3 linked regions of the Homo sapiens genome follow. The protein of the gene in region 1 interacts with the protein of each later gene in a biochemical or structural test. Each region holds a gene or a part of one and is shown in the gene's direction. Other genes may lie near its edges. The genes, in order: SH3GL1, DPPA4 and MAP4K3.

Region 1 (7,661 bases):
GGTAGTTAGGGCACAGCCTCCCGGGTGTCAGGGGTGCGAGGAGTCAGGCGGTTGTGGGGGTTCAGGAAGTCGTCCTGGGGCTCAGGAAGGCAGGGTCCTGGATTCCCAGGTGAGATGGGCAGGTGGGGCCAGGGCCAGAGCCAGAGGCCACCAGGTGGGTCTTTGGTACCGTGGCGGGTCCCCAGCCCCTCCCCTCAGAGGCAGGATGTGGTCCTCGCCGGTAGGGCCTCTCCTCCTGCCCTGTGAGAGGCAGGGGGCTGGGGAAGGGCCCTGACGGAGCCACTCCTGCCAGCCTGCACACTGGGTCCTGCCTGGGCAGGTCGTGGGGCCGGGGTGGCCTCCGCCCAGAAGGTGTGGTTTCGCAGCCCGCTGGCTTCAGTTCTCCTCCCGGCTTCCCAGAAGAGTCCAGTCTCACATCAGCCACTCATTTCCCTCTCCGGCAGCCGCTGGCTCTGAGCACGCCCTCTCTCGCCACAATCAAAAGAAGTGAAACTGTCCCAGGAAATAGAGTGGAACGCCCCAAAAACACCTAGGGAGGGGGGGCTCCTTCCTCCTAATGCCTTCAGCAGAAATGGAGGGCAGCCCCACTCTCCTGCCCCGCAAGGGACAGTTCCTGCTTCTCACCTGTGCCAGAGTCAGCCCTCCCGCGGTGGGTGTGACGAGGTGATTTTTTTTTTCTTTCTTCTTTCTTTTGAGATGGAGTCTTGCTCTGTCGCCTAGGCTGGAGTGCAGTGGCTGGATCTCTGCTGACTGCAAGCTCCACCTCCCGGGTTCACACCATTCTCCTACCTCAGCCTCCCGAGTAGCTGGGACTACAGGCACCCGCCATCAGGCCCGGCTAATTTTTTTGTATTTTTAGTAGAGACGGGGTTTCACTGTGTTAGCCAGGATGGTCTCGATCTCCTGACCTCATGATCCGCCTGCCTCAGCCTCCCAAAGTGCTGGGATTACAGGCATGAGTCACCGCGCCCGGCCAACGAGGGGATTTTTAAGAAGCTTCCAAGGTGCTGTGTGGCTGAGTTGAGAGCCACCAACCCACAGGCAGGAAAGGGACAGGGGTCAGAGGCATGGGGCCTGTGCTCACTGAATGCCCGGCACACCCCGCACATGAAGGCAGGTGGACAGAAAGGGTCCCGATGCGTGGGTGAGGACAGTCCCGTGGTGTGGGGGCTTCCAGAGCCAAGCCTTGGAGGAGGGCCAGGAATTCCTTGGCAAAGGGGCTGGTGTCTTTTTGGGCAGGTTGCCAGGACACAAGACCAGCCGTGTACTCCGGGCAGGCTACCTTTTGCAGAACTTGGGGTTGGGGGCATTTGCACTCATGGTGCCTTGGGCTGTGACCTCCAGGCATGGGCTAGAGGGTACACCAGGTGCCTGGCGTGGGCAGAGCCCCAGGCTCAAGCTTCTCCTGCCCCCGCACTTCCTGCTCTTGGGTCACTTCCTCCCAGGCTGGGTCCTAAACTCCTGACTGCCCTGCTGGACACCCCCCAGCCCCACACAGCCAACGCAGTGTGGCACCACACGGACCCTCATGGCATCCCTTGGCCACGTCTTGTGACAGCTCGGGGCAGGCAAGCACCAATCAGACCTGGGGAGCACCAGGGGCACAGGCCATGGCCCACGGCACGCAACACCTCACTCTCCTGCCCAGGCCGTGTGTGCACGTCTTCACACAAGTGATCAGACCCGGGATGTTAAATTTGCCGATGACTTCAGAGATGGCACACCCTGTGACACTTGGCCCCCAGAGGGCAGGGCCAAGCTTGTGACCTCAGGCGGCCTCCCTCTGGGAGCCTCCATTTGTGGCAGGGCCTGGCAGCCACTCGGCTCTTCATGAAGCGCTGTGTGCTGGGAAGGGCCTCACACTGTCCATCCTCACTCTGTGCGGCATCCCTTGGCGCCAGGCACACATGGGATACGTGGGGTGAAGAAAGCAACGCCTGTGCTCAGACAGCGGTGCTGGGGTTCAGTGGTTCCCGCCATGTTCCATGGGACATTTCAGGGCTGTTTTTCGCATCCCAGGCGCTGTCAGAGGGAGTGGTTTGGGAATTCAGTGCTTGCTTCTGCCTTCCCACCACACGAGGAAAGACGCTGTAAGTGCCTGTCATTGTCATCGCTTTCACCGTAGCTGAGAGCCGTGAGGACCAAGGTGTGCCAGGCCTGTGTTGACTGCCTTGTGAAACTCAGTGTCCACATGGGGCAAGGGCTGGGCTGTCCCATCCTGCAGACACGGGCACCAGAGCACAGGAGAATGGCGGCCTCCCTGCCCGGCTGCCTGCACCTCTTCTCGTAACTGTCAGCTCCTGCTGCCTCTCCCAGCCAAGCTGGCAGGATTTTTTTTTTTAAGTAGACCCCACATACTCAAGGATGGGGGCAGATCCCCACATTGCTATCTGTGGGGATGTTTGTGTAGGCGCTTCTGGAAGCAGTGTCTTCTGAGCCATGTGTTCTCAGGCTGAGGCTCTGGACTCCACCGTGGCCCAGATGGGGCCTACTGTGGCAGGGTCCCCAGTGGGTATGTGAGTGGCAGTCGGGACACACACAGGTGGGCAGGCCACCCCCACCCTCCCCCTCCCCCTGCAGGCCCACCCTGCTCTGCAGGCAGCGTGTGGCCCTGGGGTGCCCACGGCAGTGCCTGAGGTGTGTGTCCTGATCACTTGGCCTCCTGCCTCCAGCTGTGGATGCGATGTGGCTGGAAGGCGGCTCAGGGCCTCCTGTCCTCTTCTTCCTCCTACCCCTGGGCTCACAGCGTTTCCCCTCTTCTGTCCTCTAGCTGGTCAGTGAGAAGGTCGGAGGGGCCGAGGGGACCAAGCTGGATGATGACTTCAAAGAGATGGAGAAGGTGAGGAAGAAACTGCGTGCTCTGTGTGGTGGTGGCACTGCTGGGGCCTGACCTCTGCCGGGCATAGTGGAGGCGGCCAACCTTGATGGGCCTGGGTCTGGAGTGATGGGGCCCGGCAGGTGTGGAGAGATGGGGTGGTGTGGGGGCCTCGTCAGCTGGACTTGACGGGCACCAGCTCTCTCCCCTGCCGTGGGCAGGCAGCTGTGGGGACATGGCTGAGCTGAAGACATGGAGAGGGGGTTGGGGGGTCCTGGTATGGGCTCTTAGGGCAGGAGGCGGTGCAGCAGCGGGGGTCTTGTGTGCCTTGGGCCCCCACTGGCTGTGGAGTCTTATATGCTGCTTCTCTTCACAGAAGGTGGATGTCACCAGCAAGGCGGTGACAGAAGTGCTGGCCAGGACCATCGAGTACCTGCAGCCCAACCCAGGTGGGTGCTCCAGCCACTGCCAGGGCCTGCCCCAGGCCCTCTGGCCTCTGTGTCAGAGGGAAGGCAGGGGATGACAGAACCGCCAGGCTCATGGGTTGTGGGCTTCAGGCACAGCTGGATCCCGGAGTGCAGAGGCCATCCTTGGTGCTGCATGCTGCCTTTCCACCTCAACCAGCAGCTCAGCCCCTCTGTTGGCTTCACTCTCATGCCGACTGGTTCCTCAGGGCCGTCCCAGCCTTCAACCCCTCTTCCAGCCAGCAGTCCTGGCAGGGAGCCTCTCCCCCAGCTTACTTGTGGGATCCATTTGTATTGGCCGCCCCTCCCCAGTGCCCCTGGCCTGGACTTCACCTCTTGGGCTTGGGACTGGGTCTCCCTGGCTGAGAGACGGGCTTTTCCCCAAGGAAAACCCAAATGCTGGCTCCATAGGAGGCCACGGACAGGGGGCAGACGCACACCCAGCAGTGTCCACTCAGGCCCTGCCAGGAGCAGACCCAAGCGGGCAGCGGAAGGGACACAGCTCATCACCCACCCCGGGAGCCTTGGCCTCAACCACCCCCCGCTGCACATCACTGCTGCGCCTCCTCCCTGGCACCCCCCAGATGAGGGGTCATAGCCACGTTCCAAGAGGAGCAGCCCTTGGAAGGAGGAGGTTTTGCCCCCTGAGGAGCTTGGTCACCTCTCCACCCGCTGCCAGCTCCTTTGAGGCTAGCAGGAGCAGGGAAGGGACCCTCTGGGGATTCCACTGTGCTTTGTGTGGCCTAGGCTGTCCACAGGCACAGGAAGCAAGGGTGGGGAGGAGATGTGGGGGCTGCAGTCTGCCAGGGCAGAGGAGTGCAGGCCTCACAGCCCACACCCACCTGGCCATCCTATCCCAGCCTCGCGGGCTAAGCTGACCATGCTCAACACGGTGTCCAAGATCCGGGGCCAGGTGAAGAACCCCGGCTACCCGCAGTCGGAGGGGCTTCTGGGCGAGTGCATGATCCGCCACGGGAAGGAGCTGGGCGGCGAGTCCAACTTTGGTGAGTGGTGCTCTCTGGAAGCCACGCCCACCGTCCCTGGAGGCCACACCTCAACACAGGCAGGGCAGGTCCAGGCCCTGCATGTGCTGAGTGCCGGGGACGTACAGTGGCCCCCACAGCTTTCCAGCTGCAGAGGTGCAGGAGACTGCACAGACCAACCCATCCAGCACTGGCCAGCAGCTGATAGGGCCCCTTCCTGTAGCTCCAGACCTTCCCCAACTCAAGCCAGCTGCTTCCCCAGGGCCTGGACCCCCCAGCATCTGTCCTTCCACCTGTTAAGGGCAAACCTAGGCCCTTTTAGGAGCATTGGAGGGTCTGGTTTAACGTCCAGCATCGATTCGGATTTTAGGATCCTTTGTTTTGCCCTGAGTTCCAATTTCCGGGCCCTGGGCTTAGAGTGTTGGGGGGCTGTTAGAAGTTGGGATGGGGCCAAGTGTGGTGGCTCATGCCTGTAATCCCAACACTTTGGGAGGCCAAGGCAGGTGGATCACCTGAGATCGGGAATTCGAGACCAGCAAGACCAATATGGAGAAACCCCACCCCGCTTCTACTAAAAAAAAAAAAATATATATATATATATATACACACACACACACACACACACACACACACACAATTAGCCGGGTGTGGTAGTGCATGCCTGTAACCCCAGCTACTCGGGAGGCTGAGGCAGGAGAATCACTTGAACCCAGGAGGTGGAGGTTGCAGTGAGCCGAGACTATGAAAAAACAAAACAAAACAAAACAAAACAAAAACCGGGTGCGGTGGCTCACGCCTGTAATCCCAACACTTTGGGAGGCCGAGGCGGGCGGATCACAAGGTCAGGAGTTCGAGACCGGTGTGGTCTATATGGTGAAACCCCGTCTCTATTAAAAATACAAAAATTAGCTGGATGTGGTGGCAGGCCCCTGTAATCCCCCTTACTCAGGAGGCTGAGACAGGAGAATTGCTTGAACCTGGGAGGCAGAGGTTGCAGTGAGCTGAGATCATGCCACTGCACTGCAGCCTGGGCAACAGCGAGACTTCATCTCAAAGAAGTTGGAAAGGATCCAGGTGTGGGGGTGAACGCCTGTGGTCCCGGCTACTTGGGAGGCTGAGGTGCCAGCATGGCTTGAGCCCAGTTTGAGGCCTGCAGTGAGCTGGTACAGCGCCACTGCGTTCCAGCCTGTGAAACGCTATTTCAAAAACAAAGGCTGAGGAGTGTCTCAGTCTAGTGGTCCCAGGCCCGGTATGATGGCTTCCCCCACCACTTCTCCACAGGTGACGCATTGCTGGATGCCGGCGAGTCCATGAAGCGCCTGGCAGAGGTGAAGGACTCCCTGGACATCGAGGTCAAGCAGAACTTCATTGACCCCCTCCAGAACCTGTGCGAGAAAGACCTGAAGGAGATCCAGGTGCTGCTCCTGCGCCAGCCTGGGGCCTGTCCCTTCCCCCTGCCGGATGGGGCAGCCCCATTCCTGCCACCCTCACCTCCAGCCTCGGCACTGCCCTCTGGGTCTCAGGCAGGCAGGATCCCCAGTGGTGCAGGGACAGTGGGTCAAAGCCATGCGTGGGGCGGCCCTCTGGCCGCTACTGGTGTGACCCATGTCCCCCACGTCTCCAGCACCACCTGAAGAAACTGGAGGGCCGCCGCCTGGACTTTGACTACAAGAAGAAGCGGCAGGGCAAGATCCCCGATGAGGAGCTACGCCAGGCGCTGGAGAAGTTCGAGGAGTCCAAGGAGGTGGCAGAAACCAGCATGCACAACCTCCTGGAGACTGACGTGAGTAGCTCGGGGTGTCACATCCTGAGAAGACCTATGCCCTTGGGAGGCCGGGGTGGTGCCTCAAGGGAGCTGGAGGACAGATCGGCACCTACCTGGCCGCTGCAGCAGGGGAGGTGGAGGGTATGGGCCCCAGTCCCCTGTCCCCTCTCAGCCCCCTTGCCTCCTGTGGCTTCACCTCGGGAGTCAGGGAAGGCACAGGACAGTGGCACTGGCAGGAGCCCCTGAGCCCTACTGTCCCCACAGATCGAGCAGGTGAGTCAGCTCTCGGCCCTGGTGGATGCACAGCTGGACTACCACCGGCAGGCCGTGCAGATCCTGGACGAGCTGGCGGAGAAGCTCAAGCGCAGGTGAGCCCAGGGCCTTGGTCTCTCCAGAGTCTGGGCTGCCATGCGCCCTCTGCCAGCGCAAGTGGGCAGCACACCTCGCTGTGGGGTGAGCACATGGCAGAGCAGCATCCTGGATTCTTCCTGGGGACTGAGTGGAAAGGCCTGGGGGGCCGCGAGGTCAGAGGAGCTGGGGCTCTGAGAACTCTGAGTCAACACCCAGCCCTGCCCCGATGCAGGCCCCGGGGACTCCCTCCCTGGCTGCACGTTGCTGCTGCCACAGGAACACCCAGGCTCCCCTCCCTGAATGCAGAGGCCAGACCTGCTTCAGGGGCCTTGGCGTATGTGGGGCGCCGTCCGTGGTGGGGAATTGGGGGAGGAGGCAGGGGATGCGACTGGGGGTGTTGTAGGTAGATGCTGTGGCAGGCCCCAGCTGCTTGGCAATCTCTGGGATGCCTCCAAGGTGGGGGTCCAGGCTGGAGGCCCTCTGGGTAGACATCCCAGTCTAGCTGTGTCCCAGGGTCCATGTGTCACAACCCCACTGACGGCCTCTTCCTGCAGTCCCAGGCCAGGTCATTAGGCAGCAGCATAAATACAAGAGTGGGGCTGCCTCGGCCGTGACACGGGCTCGGTCCACTCACGCCTCTCCCTTCACAGGATGCGGGAAGCTTCCTCACGCCCTAAGCGGGAGTATAAGCCCAAGCCCCGGGAGCCCTTTGACCTTGGAGAGCCTGAGCAGTCCAACGGGGGCTTCCCCTGCACCACAGCCCCCAAGATCGCAGGTAATGGGGCATGGAGCCCTCTTGCGGAGGCAAATGCCAGCGGGTGGGAGTGGCCAAGGGCTGGCCCTGTCCTGGGTCTCTGAGCGCCAGACTCCTGGGTGCAGCTCTCAGCCGTGCTCCATCTGGACCGCCAAGGCAGACGGGAAGGGCTGGCCCCAGCCTTCTGCAGAAGGGGCCCTGCCCGACCGTTTTGAGCCCACAGCCTCCTCGTTTTGCTTGTGTTTAGCTTCATCGTCTTTCCGATCTTCCGACAAGCCCATCCGGACCCCTAGCCGGAGCATGCGTGAGTGTTCCCAGGCCCGCCTCGACCTCAGTGCTGCCTTCTCGGCCATTCGGGGAGGGTGTTTCTCCTCCCGCCCTGTTCTCTGCCCATCTCAAGCAGGGAGGGGCCAGGCTCGTGCAGCAGTAGGGGGCACAGGCCCCACAGCCTGCAAGATGCCACCCCTCTGGGTCTCAGCCTCACAGTGTGAATGAGGGATTGCCAAGGGCACTAGCCCAGCTAGCTCTA
Region 2 (7,661 bases), on another chromosome or scaffold:
GCACTCCAGCCTGTGTGACAGGGCAAGACCTTTTCTTTAATAAATAAATATTTTTTAAAAAAATGAAAGTGAGGAGCATATCAAAGCCAATGCCTAGTATGAGACAGAGGCTCAATATATGTTACTGTCTCTGGATTAAACAACTTTTCCCCACTCCCACTTTGCTTCCTTTAATTCAATGAACCAATATTTATTGAGTGCCTATGATGAAAAAGAAATCACACAAACCAATGTAATTGCAATTAACAAGTGGTAGAAATGAGGTAGTATTTAGTAGATTGGTCTGGAAGGACCAGGTTAAATAGCACTTGAGGTGAGACTTTTAAAAGAAGAGTAAGATTTTTAAGGTGTAAGATTTTAAAGTGTAAATAGAAGTAGGGTGGAGGTTGGGGCTGAGGAATGTAACAACTTTGGAAAGGAAAGGAATTATGTGGCTGGAGCTTGGTCAGGGAGAGCAGTGTGAAATAGGAGATAAGAGGCTGGTAGGTAATGTTAAAGACAATTACTTTTATGTTAAGAGCAATAAACCACTGAAACTTTTCATAGTGTCACTCTGCCAACAGTGTTAGAAAATTATTTGGAAGGCGTCAAGAATGAAGGACTGGGGGAAAAAATTCTGCCAGGTGAGAGATGATGGAATATAGTAAGTGAGTTAAGGGCCTCTTTTTTTTTTTTGAGACAGTCTCATTCTGTCACCCAGGCTGGAGTGCAGTGGTGCAGCCTCTACCTACCTCCCTGGCTCAAGCAATCCTCCTATCTCAGTCTCGAGTAGCTGGACTACACGCACACACCACCATGCTCAGCTAATTTTGTTTCCTTATGTAGAGGCAAGGTTTCACTATGTTGTTGCTCAGGCTGGTATCCAGTTACTGGACTCAAGCAATCCTCTTGCCTAGGCCTCCTATAGCACTCAGACTACAGGCGTGAGCCTACCTAAGCGCTTTTTCCCCTCAAGGCAGAGCTGTTTTCTTCTACTCTTGTTTGTATCTGTCTTTTCATGTGCTTTCAAACTGGCTTCCTCCCTTTTTTTCCATCATTGTTTCCCAGTCTTGTAAATGAAACTGAGTATTAAGATGATACCCAGAGGAGAATCCACACTGCCAGTGGAGTCCAGTAACTGCGTTGGTGCCTTAGAAGTGAGTTATCTTGAGGCAGGTAGTGTATGTGTGGTTTGGACACTAGAGGAATGACTGACCAGCTCCTCTGTTCCCCAGTGGACCTCCACAGAGAAGTCGAGGGAAGAGGATCAGCAGGCTTCTAATCAACCAAATTCAATTGCTTTGCCAGGAACATCAGCAAAGAGAACCAAAGAAAAAATGTCTATCAAAGGCAGTAAAGGTAAGAGGTCTTCAAATTCTCAAATCCCACCTTCTCGGGTCTTAGAAGCCAGAGGAATTTTTCTGAAGAAGAAAAACCAGGGAAGAAATTTCCATCATGTATTGTGCAAATCCTGCACTTCATGGAAGCCAAGCTTAAACTGTTACCTTCCTGAAGCATCTTTTGGTCACCACTGCTCTAACTGATCCCTTCCTATCTTCAGACTTCCACAGCATATTTGGTTCTGCTGATCATTTTTTCCTTCACTTGCTACTTGGAGTTAAGGATTTCAGTGTGCAATGATTTGGGAACAGACAGCTGTAAATTTGAAGATCCATTCTTGAAACCGGACTTCCTATTCTAAAAATAAGTTAGGACAATATCTACCTTTATTAAGCGGTGGGAATGGAGTGTTAAAATTTACATAGAGTAGTTAAGTGAAGCACTTAGACTATGCCTGAGAAGTAATATGTACAGAGTAAACCCTACTATTAGTGTCATTACAGGCTGGTTTTTTTTTTTTTTTTTTTTTTTTTTTTTTGAGACACCAAGACAGGGTGTTGCTCTGTCATCCAGGCTGGAGTGTGGTGGCACCATCTCAGCTCCCTGCAACCTGTGCCTCCCGAGTTCAAGCAATTCTCCTGTCTCAGCCTCCCAAGTTAGCTAGGATTGCAGGCGTGTGCCACCATGCCTGGCTGATTTTTGTATTTTTAGTAGAGACAGGGTTTCACCATATTGGCCAGGCTGATTGCAAACTCTTGGCCTCAAGTGATCGTCTGCCTTGGCCTCCTAAAGTGCTGGGGTTACAGGTGTGAGGCACCATGCCCAGCCTTAGAAATTTTTATGGCACGATCCCGGCCCACTACAACCTCTGCCTCCCGGGTTCAAACAGTTCTCCTGCCTCAGCCTCCCAAGTAGCTGGGATTACAGGCATGTGCCACCACGCCCAGCTAATTTTTTAAGTAGAGACGGCGTTTCACCATGTTGACCATGCTGATCTCCAACTCCTGACCTCAGGTTATCCACCCACCTCGGCCTCCCAAAGTGCTGGGATTACAGTGTGAGCCACTGCGCCCAGCCAGAAATCTTTACTGAATGAAGACAAGGTATGTGAGGTGCAGAAGCGGGATGAACAGAAACACAGCAGAGCTAAGGAAACATACCTGCTATGAAACCAGAGTGCTTCCCTGACCTAGGGTGGGCTGGCAGAATTAAGGGTATTAGTGGTTGCCTGTGTAGCATTGTCAGGTGTTGATTTTGCTCTGGGGGTAGAGGACACCACTGAGTATGATCTCAAGTCTAAGACAGCGGTAATTCCCCTGGGATGGAAGTGCAACCTCCGATGCCACCACCTGGATTCTGTGGATTAAGGAGCTCACAAAGGAGCAAGTGTACCTCAGTAGTGGGGCAATTTAGGAATAAAACTGGGTTTTAGAAGTGGTAAATCCTAGGTTTGAGAGGGATTGGACTATTAACTAAAAGTGATTTTAGGCTGGGCGCGGTGGCTTAGGCCTGTAATCTCAGAACTTTGGGAGGCCTAGGTGGGCAGATCACAAGGTCAGGAGTTCGAGACCAGCTTGGCCAACATGGTGAAACCCCATCTCCACTAAAAATACAAAAAATTAGCCGGGCGTGGTGGTGGGCGTCTGTAATCCCAGCTACTCAGGAGGCTGAGGCAGGAGAATCACTTGAACCCACGAGGCGGAGGTTGCAGGGAGCCAAGATCGCGCCACTGCACTCCAGCCGGGCGACAGAGCAAGATTCTGTCTCAAAAAAGAAAAAAAAAGTGATTTTACTTTTGAAATTCAGAAAAGCTACACAAAGATAATTACTACTCATTTGATTCCATTCTGCTTCAGTGCTCTGCCCTAAGAAAAAGGCAGAGCACACTGACAACCCCAGACCTCAGAAGAAGATACCAATCCCTCCATTACCTTCTAAACTGCCACCTGTTAATCTGATTCACCGGGACATTCTGCGGGCCTGGTGCCAACAATTGAAGCTGAGCTCCAAAGGCCAGGTGAGGTCCCAGGCTGGGGACGGTGCTGCTGGGAGGAAGGGTAGGAACCTTATTTGCCTTACTAACTCAGTTTTCTATTGTCTTAGAAATTGGATGCATATAAGCGCCTGTGTGCCTTTGCCTACCCAAATCAAAAGGTAACTTTTTAAAGGATGGACGTTTCAATGCTTATCCTAATTACCTATTGTAGCCTCAAAAGTGAGTAAAGGAACTGTCTTAGCCTCACCTTGTTCCTCCACCCCTAGTTCTAAGAAAGAACAATATTTCCCATCTCTACTTCTCTTTTTTTTCTTTCTTTCTTTCTTTTTTTTTTTTTTTTTTTTTTTTGAGACAGAGTCTTGCACTGTCACCCAGGCTGGAGTGCAGTGGCACCATCTCGGCTCACTGCAACCTTCACTTCCCGGGTTCAAGCAATTCTCCTGCCTCAGCCTCCAGAGTAGCTCGGATTACAGGCGCCTGCCTCAGGTGATCCACCCACTTCGGCCTCCCAAAGTGCTGGGATTACAGGCGTGAACCACTGTGCCTGGCCAGCAATTTTCTTTTTTTCTATTTTTTTCTTTTCATTTCTTTTCTTTTCTTTTCTTTCTTTTTTTTTTTTTTTTTTTTTTTTGAGACAGAGTCTCCCTCTGTCACTTAGGCTGCAGTTCAGGCTGCAACCTCTGCCTCCCTGGTTCAAGTGATGCCCCTGTCTCAGCCCCTGGAGTAGCTGAGATTACAAGCATGAGCCACCATGCCTGGATAATTTTTGTATTTTTAGTAGAGACGGGATTTCACCATGTTGGCCAGGCTGGTCTCGAACTCCTGACCTCAAGTGTTTCACCCACCTTGGCCTCCCAAAGTGCTGGGATTACAGACCTGAGCCACTGGGTGGCCAACTGAGCAATTTTCAAGAAGACAGTACATTGTTATTAACTATGTATAGTTACCAACTTGTACAATAGATCTCTTGAACCTAGTCCTCCTAAGTGAAACTTTGTATTTGATCAAGAGCTCCTTAGGCCATTTTTGTTAGAATTTTAATCTGTATTTTTATCTTTATTATTTAACCCTTTTTGTAGGATTTTCCTAGCACAGCAAAAGAGGCCAAAATCCGGAAATCATTGCAAAAAAAATTAAAGGTGGAAAAGGGGGAAACGTCCCTGCAAAGTTCTGAGACACATCCTCCTGAAGTGGCTCTTCCTCCTGTGGGGGAGCCGCCTGCCCTGGAAAATTCCACTGCTCTCCTTGAGGGAGTTAATACAGTTGTGGTGACAACTTCTGCCCCAGAGGCTTTGCTGGCCTCCTGGGCGAGAATTTCAGCCAGGGCGAGGACACCAGAGGCAGTGGAATCTCCACAAGAGGCCTCTGGTAAGCGCAACATGAAGAGCTTATTCTGGTCCAATGGGGAAATAAGCTTAGTAGATATTAATCACTGGTACATTTTAGGGTATATCAAAATCCCTTTGAGGGCCGGTGATTCCTGGACCCTGCCCACAGAGTTTCTGGTGCAGGTCTAGGGCAGGACCTGAGCATTTATTTGCATTTCTTTTTTTTTTTTCCTTTTTTTTTTTTTTTTTTTTTTTTTTTTTTTGAGACAGTTTCTCCCTTGTTGCCCAGGCTAGAGTGCAGTGGCGCGATCTCAGCTCACCGCAACCTCCACCTCCCAGGTTCAAGCAATTCTCCTGCCTCAGCCTTCCTGAGTAGCTGGGATTACAGGCATGTGCCACCATGCCCGGCTAATGTTGTCTTTTTAGTAGAGATGGGGTTTCTCCATGTTGGTCAGGCTGGTCTCGAACTCCCGACCTCAGATGATCCTCCCACCTTGGCCTCCCAAAGTGCTGGGATTACAGGCGTGAGCCACCGTACCTGGCAAGAGTTTGCATCTCTAACAGTTTCCCAGGCAGTACTAAGGATGCTGGTCTGGGGACCACAGTTTGAGAACCACTGCTCTAAATTATTGATGGCATCAGAAGGGGATAGCAGTCTGGTTTTCTTTCTTTACCCTTTAAGCAATTTAAATTAAAGGCAAGGTCTAAAATTAATTGCCTGCAACTGAGCCCCAGAATGGCATTAATAAGTTATTTAAAATATTTCCCAGCGTTTTCATTGTAAAATGGGTAATACCTACCTTATATGTTGGAAGAATTACAGAAAGTACAACAAAAGAAGACAAACTGCTTAGCATAATCCAATGTGTGTTAAGAGCTGAGACCCCTGAGCTTATTTCATGAAGCCCTTTCCAGACACTCTGGGTTAGTCTTTCTACCATCTGCCCACCTACAACTATACTACTTCCAACTAGATTTTTAAGTTTTAACAGGAACTGTCTTGTATGCTTTTTGTTTTGTTTTGCTTTTGATATGGAGTCTCGCTCTGTCACCCAGGCTGGAGTGCAGTGGTGCAATCTTGGCTCACTGCAAGCACCGCCTCCCGGGTTCACGCCATTCTCCTGCCTCAGCCTCCTGAGTAGCTGGGACTACAGGCCCCCGCCACCACGCCTGGCTAATTTTTTGTATTTTTAGTAGAAACGGGGTTTCACTGTGTTAGCCAGGATGGTCTCGATCTCCTGACCTCGTGATCCACCCGCCTCGGCCTCCCAAAGTGCTGGGATTACAAGCGTGAGCCACTGCGCCCAGCTTGTATGCTTTTCTAAAGGAGAACAGAATAGAGAAGAGGTTAAGTTAGGATTTCAGGGTTCACATCTTGGAGCTGGTCAATCAAGGGTGATGGGCCATAATGCAGTCTTACATCAGTATGTCATCCTGGTGTGCGGGTACCTGTCTCTTTCCTTTGCCATTGCCAGGTGTCAGGTGGTGTGTGGTCCATGGGAAAAGTCTCCCTGCAGACACAGATGGTTGGGTTCACCTGCAGTTTCATGCTGGTCAAGCCTGGGTTCCAGAAAAGCAAGAAGGGAGAGTGAGTGCACTCTTCTTGCTTCCTGCCTCCAATTTTCCACCCCCGCACCTTGAAGACAATATGTTGTGCCCCAAATGTGTTCACAGGTAATTACCTGATGCTTTTCTACAAACTAAAAGTGGGTGCCGGATTTTCAATTGCAGAAAGTTAAGATATACATTAATCTTAAATAGCCAGGTATTTCAAGCTCAAATTGTCAGTAAAGAGTTTCAAGAAAATTATTACTCAGTTAAGTTTATCCCCAGGAAAAAGAAAGCATTTATGTGTCAGGGTTTAATGCTTCTACCTGGAGACACAGAATTCTGGGAGCAACAAACATTATATAATTACTATATTCAAAGTGTATGCTCTACACAGAAATAATGACTAGCAAAAAACCTCTTCCTTTAAGTAGCCTACAGTCTTAACAGGGATGGTGGGCATGTAAACACCTAGAATAACATGATGAATATCAAAGAAGAGGTTCCTTAAGTTAAGGGAAGAATCGACTAGATGGAAAGGAGAGATCGGTAATTTCTCAGCCTGGGAAACGTAGCAAGACCATCTCCCACAGGAGGAAGTATGTGAATGTGTGATTGGCTTTTCCTTCTTTGGGATATCCTACTTTTTGCTGTGAGTGTTTTGATAATCTCTCTATGCCAAGCAAGTTGAAGAGAACTGAGGAGGTCACTTTGGGTAGTCCTTTAATGACATACTTAGGTTTTTGGGAAAGTGATGAAAAGAGCCCCTCCAAGGCCTCCTGTCCATGGTTGGCACAAGTCAGGGAATATATTACAGAGGCATGATAACTTGGCTGATGATCTTCATTCTTGAATGACAGGATCACAGGCTTGCTACCTATGATCCTAAAGTTGTAAGGGCAATTTCAACAGCATTCCAGCAGCGGGTTTCTTGGCTATTTTTAATATTTCTTCATTCTTTTTAAAAACAAATACTTTATTTGCTTTATAGGAACAAGGTCTTAATAAAAAGCCTCCAATGGGAATAGAATATCAGGAAAAAGGCCACATCTATGGTAATTAATGGCAGAAAAGCTGGAGAGTTGGATTCTGCGGTGCTGCTGACAGGTGAACTCTGGTCCTCTGCACCTGTTTATGGGCCATGCAGACTGGTGGGGTGGCAGATGTTAGCCTAAGACCCCTAGCAGTGCCTGTTGCTTTGTGAGTGGAGATAGAGACTCTTACATTTAAAAATGGAAAAACATTTCACAAATTACCATAAATTGTAGTTAATATGTAGAAAAACTCATTCATACTACTTTTCTAAAATAGACATGACTTCAGCAGCAGCTTTTTTTTGTTGTATTTTGAGACAGTGTCTCACTGTTGCCCAGGCTGGAGTGCAGTGGTGCAATCTCAGTTCAGTGCAATCTCCGCCTCCTGGGTTCAAATGATTCTCCTGCCTCAGCCTCCTGAGTAGCTAGGTACAG
Region 3 (7,661 bases), on another chromosome or scaffold:
GATTAACTTGCCAAAGTTGGTAGGTGGCAAAGCCAAAATTTGAACCAATTAGGGACTGTATTCTTAACCAATTGGCAGTGCTGCCTCTCTAAAGATAGGAGATGGGCAGATAATGTATTACATTTCCAGTGGAGAAACTGAGGCACACATTTAGTTTAGCATTTGAGTTGTAGCCACACTCTGAGTCAGTGTAGATCTTTAAGTAGTAGTTGGAATACCTAATTCCTGCTGTGCCACAAGGTCTCACTGTTTATGTAGTCTGCCAAGTGGATATCAGATAATAGATGCTTGGTCCCTGCCTGCCAGACTCTTCCAATACCAGTGACCAAAGCAGAGAAACTTCATGTGGTTCTTGACATCATGTACCCCTGCCTGCCAAACTCTTGTTTATGTTTTTGTCTATAATCAAGTTTATTCTATAAAGTTACATTTTTTTGTTATTTGTTTTGCTGTTTTAGTTTTTTCTTATTTATACAAATTAATTGTGCTAGAGAGAAGTACATTTTGTTTTCAAAAGCCAATATATATAATTTGTTCCTTAATTTGTCAGCATTTACGTGCTAAAAATGGAATGATTGGATTAAATAAATAAGAGATCCGATTATAGTCATTCTTGGAAGGTTGGTGGAGATTTTTATTTTGAAAATGTTTTCCTACTCAATGTAATAACATATTTATTGTACTTAAGGTGGCGTGGTTTAGTTCCAAAGCACTGAACAAGGATGTGGACAATCTGGGATTTATTAGCTATGTGACCTTGTGAAATCAACCTCTCAGAGCTGTTTTGTTGTGGAGATATTATTACCATCATATGCCCTTCTTCTTTTGGTATTGACTAAATGACTCAAATTTTACTTAGTAAGTAAGTTATCTTTATTTTTTTCAGGCCAATGCATATATACATTTTATCTGCACTGTCTAAAGTCGTATCTTGTAAGTGTCGTGTAACTCTGCAGGCTTTATCTGTCATGAAGTGCCTGCAGCTTGGGTTACCTAGGGACCTAGGAGCTGGCAACTGAAGCTCTTTAGTTGGGCCTCAGGAGGCCCATGGAGTGCTCTGAAATTAATAGGCTTAATGTTGTATGTATTTGTGTTTTTCTGTGGAGATGGGTTATAGCATTCATTGCATTCTTAAAGAGCTTCATGATCCAAAAAAATGAAAAAATGATCCATAGGTTTGCCATTCAAAAAAGTTTTCTTGGAGAAATTAGGTAGTTATAATAGATCATAATATGATTTTCACATGCATTGTGCCATCTTTTGTCAGGCAGTTTTCCAGTTTAATTTTTATTATTCCTACCCTTTAAGTCTTGATGTCCTTATGTTTTTCTAGATTTTTTGCTAGAAAGAAGCAGGAGATAGTAAAGCTGGAGATGGGATAAGGCAAAAGAAGTTTTGAAAGAATAGTCTCAATATGGTTTCTGAGGAAGTATCTTACCTAGTCTTATGGTTTTAGTCTGGTCCCTGTGAATGATTCCTAGCCTGTGTATCCAAGACTGGATACACAAAGACTCCAGGCTGTAAGCCTTAGAGTCATCTTTAGTGACTTCTGGACTGGGCTTCTTAGGCATTAGCTAAATTCTGTACACAGGCATTTTCCAAAGTGTGGTTGGGGTGCTTCAGGAAAAGCCATACCATGAGTAGGTTAAAGACTGAGAAGTCCTATGGTAAAGAAACCTGGTAAACTTTGCTTAACCTAGCAAACTCCAAACTTACTTGACTATTAGATTCTTTTTCTCTGTAATACATATTGCTTGTCCTTAGTACTAGTGTTTTGTAGAACATGCTTTGGAAACGTTGATATTGATTTTTTTTCACCTTTGTGTGTTTGGAAGCCATTCCCTCTGAAGCACGGGCTGCCGTGTTGTTAAGCTTCCAGGTAGGATTCACATCGTAGTCTGTGTAAATAGATTTAAAGTGTCTGTGAAAGCTGGCAGGAAAAAAGGTGAGGATTGGGCAGTAAAATAAGGAAACCAATTTATATGCATTTAGATAATTACGTGTTAGTTTATTTGTAATTATGCATCTTTCAAGGTGTTCTATTTAATATCATCATAGACTAATTCTTCCATTATAATCAGCATTTGTGAGAACCTTTCTGGAAAACTCAATTCTTAAACCTAACGGATAAGGAATATGAAGACCTTAAGCATTTAGAAAAGAACATTTGAAGGAAGCTCAAACATTGTTATTTGGAGTTATGCTCACTTCTATTTACTTCCATTTAGGATAGACTCTAATAGACTCTAGAGAGACCAGAAGAAATGGCCCTAAACTTCAGAAAGATCATTTGAAGTTGAATAAGGTAGAATTTCCCATCATCAGTTGCTATTTGAGATGAAAAGTGACAATGAAACAGGTAGCGAGGTAATTTTTCTAGAGTGTTTGAAAAACAAACAGGTTTTCTGACTTTGATGCAGATCTGATTACCTAAAGGAAGTACTTACCTCCAGCCTTTGATCTGTATATGTATTTATTGGTGAAACGTATCTAATGCATCATTTTGTATTAAGAATGAATAGTAAGTTCTCTCATGAGAGTACATTGAACAGCCATCATACATTGAACAGCTGTAATATGAGAGGAAATGTGTTATGAACTGTGAGTAGAGTAGCAGAAATGACAAGGCTTGGTACTTGGTATTTACAGGAACATAAAATGTGTACCTGCTATTAGCTGTCATAGTTTGAGATCAGAACCTTTTGGTTTCCTCATTTATATCATATTAAATCTCTTGCTGGCTGAGAGACTCTCTAGATACTCCATAATTGCACAACCGACCTCTGTAGCACAGCATAGTGATTTGAGAACAGGGTTCTGGAGCCAGGCTGCCTAGTTTCACCACCCACTAGCTTTGTCCTTAGGCCAATTACTTAATCCCTCTCTGTGTGTCTCAGTTTCCTCAGCTGTAAAATGGAGATGCTTAGAAAAGTGCTTGGGACAGTACCTGACACAAAAAAGTGTGGTCATTGTTAATTGCTGTTAGTGTCTAGAAGTATTTATTATTATGTATTTCTCCTCCTACTGTCCTTCTAACCAACTGCATTCCTCATGCTTTGCCTCAGGGTTTTTAGCTTGCTGTCTCTGCCTAAAATCCACCCCTCCCCACCAATATCTGTTTGGCTTGCTTCTTCGTTTAAAGTCTCAGCTCAAATGTCATCTTTTAATGAGCCTGCTCCTTTCCACCCTACAAAAAACAGCACTTCTCCCACCACTTTCAGGGATACAGTTCAGGGATGGATCCAGGTTTTACGGGACCTGAAGTTGATGCAGTTTTGGGGACCCTCATTAAGAAAACAAAACTAGAATTAAAAAAGGTATGAAAGTGAATCTTTAGAATGAGAAAAGATATCCCAACAAAATACTGTAACCTTAGGTCCCTTTCTTCTGAGACTTCCTTAGGCATTTAATCACAAATGCTCACAAAAAAATGCTTTCTGATGACTCCCTGGCTCCCTGTCTCCACCTGGAATACTCTACATGTCCCAGCAACTCTCAGCACTCATAGAGGACCATGCAAGTGAAGGGGCCTGAACTTTAAGTTTTGTTAGCTTCACAAAAAATTCAGTTGGACTCTTTACTTAATTTTTAATTATGGCATGTATCACCACATGTTTATTTGTTTATAGCCTGTCTCTTCCCACTAGAGTATAAATCCAGGAAACTGGTGATTTTGCTTTGTTCATTGCTGTATCCCCAGAGCCTAGAAGAGTAGCTGACCCATATTAGGTTCTTAATAAATATTTATGGAATGAATAAATGAACCAACACGAGAGGAACAAACCATGGCTACATGAGTTTAGAGGAAGGAGATCATTATTTCTGACTGGGAGAAATCACAGCAGGCCTTGCAGAGGAGGTGGCATTGGGCTTGACTTAGAGTTCTGGCAATAGTGGGTACAGAATGAGTTAAATGTAATGGGTTATTATTAGGTCTTAAATCTAATCAGTAGGGTTAATGTATCTTTGGCATATTAAGCAATGTTCATAATTGTTATATGCATATGAAGATACTCCGTCATTTTGAACTAAATACCCCTAGTGACTGACTAGTGAATACAGCAGTAGGCTATCACATATGACTTTTATTTTGTTTTTTTTAAAATACGATTAAATTGGGCTTTTAGGAAGAGGACTTTGTTCACCAATACAAAAAAAACCTTCGATTCAAGAGATGAAATCATGTTTCTTTTTTAATTTTTATTTATTTTTTCATACCACCTTTATATGTACAAAAATCATATTTCTTTTCTGCTTTAGGTTTTTTTTAGTCTTTTTTTGTTCTGGAAGATGCCACATTTCTGAGTTCTAACTGCCTTGACCTGATTATAGGTTTGGTTTCCTAATGTAATAATGTACTGCCTACCTTAGCCCTTAAACTCTATAGAATAATTTTAGATTTGACCATAAATTTACATATGTTGAAATAAGACACTTATTTTGTTTGTTTAAGCTCTTAGAAATTTGAGATTGTAAAAATTCTTTCTGTATAAAGGATCATCTACCTTACCTTGCTCAAAGAATCTCCTCTTCATCGCCTGTATGCTAACCTACATACACCATGATAGTAAGGCCTCCCCAGCCATGTGGAACTGTGAGTCAATTAAACCTCTTTCCTTTATAAATTACCCAGTCTTGTGTATGTCTTTATTAGCAGCATGAGAACAGATTAATACATGCCCCTTCCCAGCCAGTCATAAATACCACCCACCCACAATTATTGTTCTCCTTTCGGTCACCATGAAAGCTCTTTTAGAACTTTGTATAAATGAATCATGAGTGAATTGCCTCAGCACTTTTGATGAAAATCAGTTGACAGTACACATGTGAGTATATCTGGACTCTTGTTCTTTTGAGCTGTATGTCTATACTTTCACCAATACCTCAGTGTCTTGTTTACTGTAGCTTTATCAAAAGTCTTGAAATTAGGCAGAGTGGGTCCTCCAATTCTGTTCTACCTTTTCAAAATGGTTTTATCTATTCTAGGTCCTTTGCTTTTCCATACAAATTTTTGAATCAGCTTTTCAAGTTAAATATAAAAGCCTACTGGAATTTTGTCTTAACTTTAAATTTTGAGATACATAATTCTAAATTCATTGCAAAAAGAGGAAAAGAGGTCTCATGTACCCAACACCCACCTTCCCCCAGTGGTGATATCTTTACATACCTATAGTGCATTATCAAAACGAGGAAATTAGTTGGCACAATACAGTTAACTAAGCTTTAGTCAGATTTCACCAGTTTTTGTATGCATTCATTTTTTATATCTTTGTATATAATTTTGTGATATTTTATATACACAGCCTGCTGGGATTGTGTGGGATCTGTCACTCAGTTAGTGGAGAATTGAGATCTTAAAAACATTGAGTCTTCTGATCTATGAATATGATATACCTTTACATTTATTTAGATGATCTTTATCTCATCAATATGTTGCTTTATTTTAATTAATTAATGTTATCCCTGGCTTTTCCTACTAATATTGCAGTGAAACATAATTGTGGAAAACTTCTCCAGGATTGCGTAGTAATTATAATGTGAGCCATATTTTCAGTTTTCATTAAAATTCTCATTGTACTAGTAGTTTCTGACTTCCTTTGGCTTAGTCTTGTTCATTTTTAACCCTGAGCATATGGACTCCTTTTTTTTTTTTTTTTTTTTTTTTTGAGACGGAGTCTCGCTCTGTCGCCCAGGCTGGAGTGCAGTGGCGCTATTTCGGGTCGCTGCAACCTCCGCCTCCTGGGTTCAAGCAATTCTGCCTCAGCCTCCCGAGTAGCTGGGATTATAGGCATGTGCCACCATGCTGGGCTAATTTTTGTATTCTTAGTAGAGACGGGATTTCACCATGTTGGCCAGGCTGGTCTCGAACTCTTGACCTCGTGATCCACCCGCCTCAGCCTCCCAAGGTGCTGGGATTACAGGTGTGAGCCACTGCACCCGGCCCATGGACTCCTTTTAATAAAAATTGACAAAAATGAAAGGGAAACAGGCAAAATGACTATTTAAAAAGATATCCATTTTTTCTATGTATCCAAAGATTTTTTTTTTGAGGCAGAGTTTTGCTCTTTCTCTTGTTGCCCAGGTTGGAGTGCGATGGCATGATCTCAGCTCACTGCAACCTCTGCCTTCCGGGTTCAAGCACTTCTCCTGCCTCAGCCTCCCGAGTAGCTGGGATTACAGGCACCCGTCACCACGCCCAGCTAATTTTTTGTATTATTTTAGTAGAGATGGAGTTTCGCCATGTTGGCCAGGCTGGTCTCGAACTCCTGACCTCAGGTGATCACCTGCCTCAGCCTCCCAAAGTGCTGGGATTACAGGCGTGAGCCACTGTGCCGGCCCCAAAGATTATAACAAATACCTTATAAAACTTGGTTTACTTTTATATATGAGATGTGTGTGTTTCTGTGTATTTTGCAAAACTCACAGCTTTTGAGCTTATTAAAGGAAAATACACTTAAAGTTTACTTCATCCTTAAGTGAAAAATAACACTGCTAGGTTGTTTAGGAGATCCTAAAGAAAATTCTTACCCTGAGGAACTTAAACCCTGATATAAGGAAACAAAATCTGCATGTATGGAACATCTAAGGAACATGCCTAAGGCACTATTTTAACAATTAGAAGAAAACAATAAAACTATATAAATACTGTAGGAATTTTAATTTAAGGGAAAAATAAGTTGACTTCCTGAAAGAGTGAATCTTGACCTGGGACTTGAAGAAAAATTGTATTTGCGATTGTGGAGAACTGTGAAGTCATACCAAAAGAGTAAATATGGGTTAAAAATACTGCTGTAGAACCTAAGTGGGCAAAGAAGTAATAAGACAACTATTCTAAGGAGACATATTGGGAAATGTGGTAGATAATGTTTCACATATATAAGATACAGATAAATGAATGCCAGTTGAAGAATTTAGAACTCACTTGACCTACAATGTAGTATTTTTCAAATTCATTAGGGCCACTCTTTTCTCTAACGTGCTTGGGTAGCTATTTAGATGGTATTCAATAAGTTTTATTTCTTCCCTTTCATCTCTATTGATTTAGAAGTTAAAAGATTTTACTTTTATGCTTTTGGTGGTTACCGTTAAATTTGCAACTTGTGTAATTAGTCTGAAGTTAACTGATCTTTCTCTGTTCTCTTTCTGGTCAGTATGTGGATTTTAGAAGGCTTAATTTCATTCACTACCTTACTGTTTTGTGTTGTCTCTTACTTTGGTTCTACTGTTCTTAAATGTCCCAGTTTAGTTTTTATTATTGTTTTATACAGACAGTGCTTCTTTACATTTACGTGTAGGAGTTTTCAATTTCTTTGCTCACTGTTTCTTCTTGGCCTTATATTCCTTCATTCTGGGTTCAGATTTCTTTAATCTTGAAGCTGTATTTGGTAGGATTTTTTTTCTTTCTTTTAACTTTTCTTTTTAAGTGAGGAACTGTATAAGGTAAACTCAGTCTTCCTCCTCCCCCTCCTCATTGTCTTTATTTTGTCTTTACTTTTAAATCATAGTTTAGTGGGGTATAGAACTCTAAATTAACGGTTGTTTTTTTCTCAGCACTTTGAAGATCTTTTGTTGTCTTCTGGTTACCTGTTGTGCTGTGGAGAAGTCTGTTGTCAATATAATTATTGTTGCTTTTAGCTAATCTTACTTTTTCTTTCCTCCCT

What was found.
Region 2: the proteins of SH3GL1 (region 1) and DPPA4 form a complex in vitro, tested with the Homo sapiens proteins (one study listed by BioGRID).
Region 3: the proteins of SH3GL1 (region 1) and MAP4K3 form a complex in vitro, tested with the Homo sapiens proteins (one study listed by BioGRID).

The regions. Positions count from the first base shown.
Region 1 is NC_000019.10:4,362,104-4,369,764, reverse strand, and holds part of SH3GL1 (endophilin-A2), read left to right. Parts: intron 1-2,770; coding exon 2,771-2,839; intron 2,840-3,191; coding exon 3,192-3,264; intron 3,265-4,139; coding exon 4,140-4,283; intron 4,284-5,543; coding exon 5,544-5,677; intron 5,678-5,886; coding exon 5,887-6,045; intron 6,046-6,291; coding exon 6,292-6,395; intron 6,396-7,028; coding exon 7,029-7,153; intron 7,154-7,379; coding exon 7,380-7,436; intron 7,437-7,661. UniProt on the Homo sapiens protein: Implicated in endocytosis. May recruit other proteins to membranes with high curvature.
Region 2 is NC_000003.12:109,327,547-109,335,207, reverse strand, and holds part of DPPA4 (developmental pluripotency-associated protein 4), read left to right. Parts: intron 1-1,214; coding exon 1,215-1,338; intron 1,339-3,176; coding exon 3,177-3,337; intron 3,338-3,423; coding exon 3,424-3,474; intron 3,475-4,395; coding exon 4,396-4,684; intron 4,685-6,119; coding exon 6,120-6,318; intron 6,319-7,183; coding exon 7,184-7,220; 3' UTR 7,221-7,661. UniProt on the Homo sapiens protein: May be involved in the maintenance of active epigenetic status of target genes. May inhibit differentiation of embryonic cells into a primitive ectoderm lineage.
Region 3 is NC_000002.12:39,427,070-39,434,730, reverse strand, and holds part of MAP4K3 (mitogen-activated protein kinase kinase kinase kinase 3), read left to right. Parts: intron 1-7,661. UniProt on the Homo sapiens protein: Serine/threonine kinase that plays a role in the response to environmental stress. Appears to act upstream of the JUN N-terminal pathway.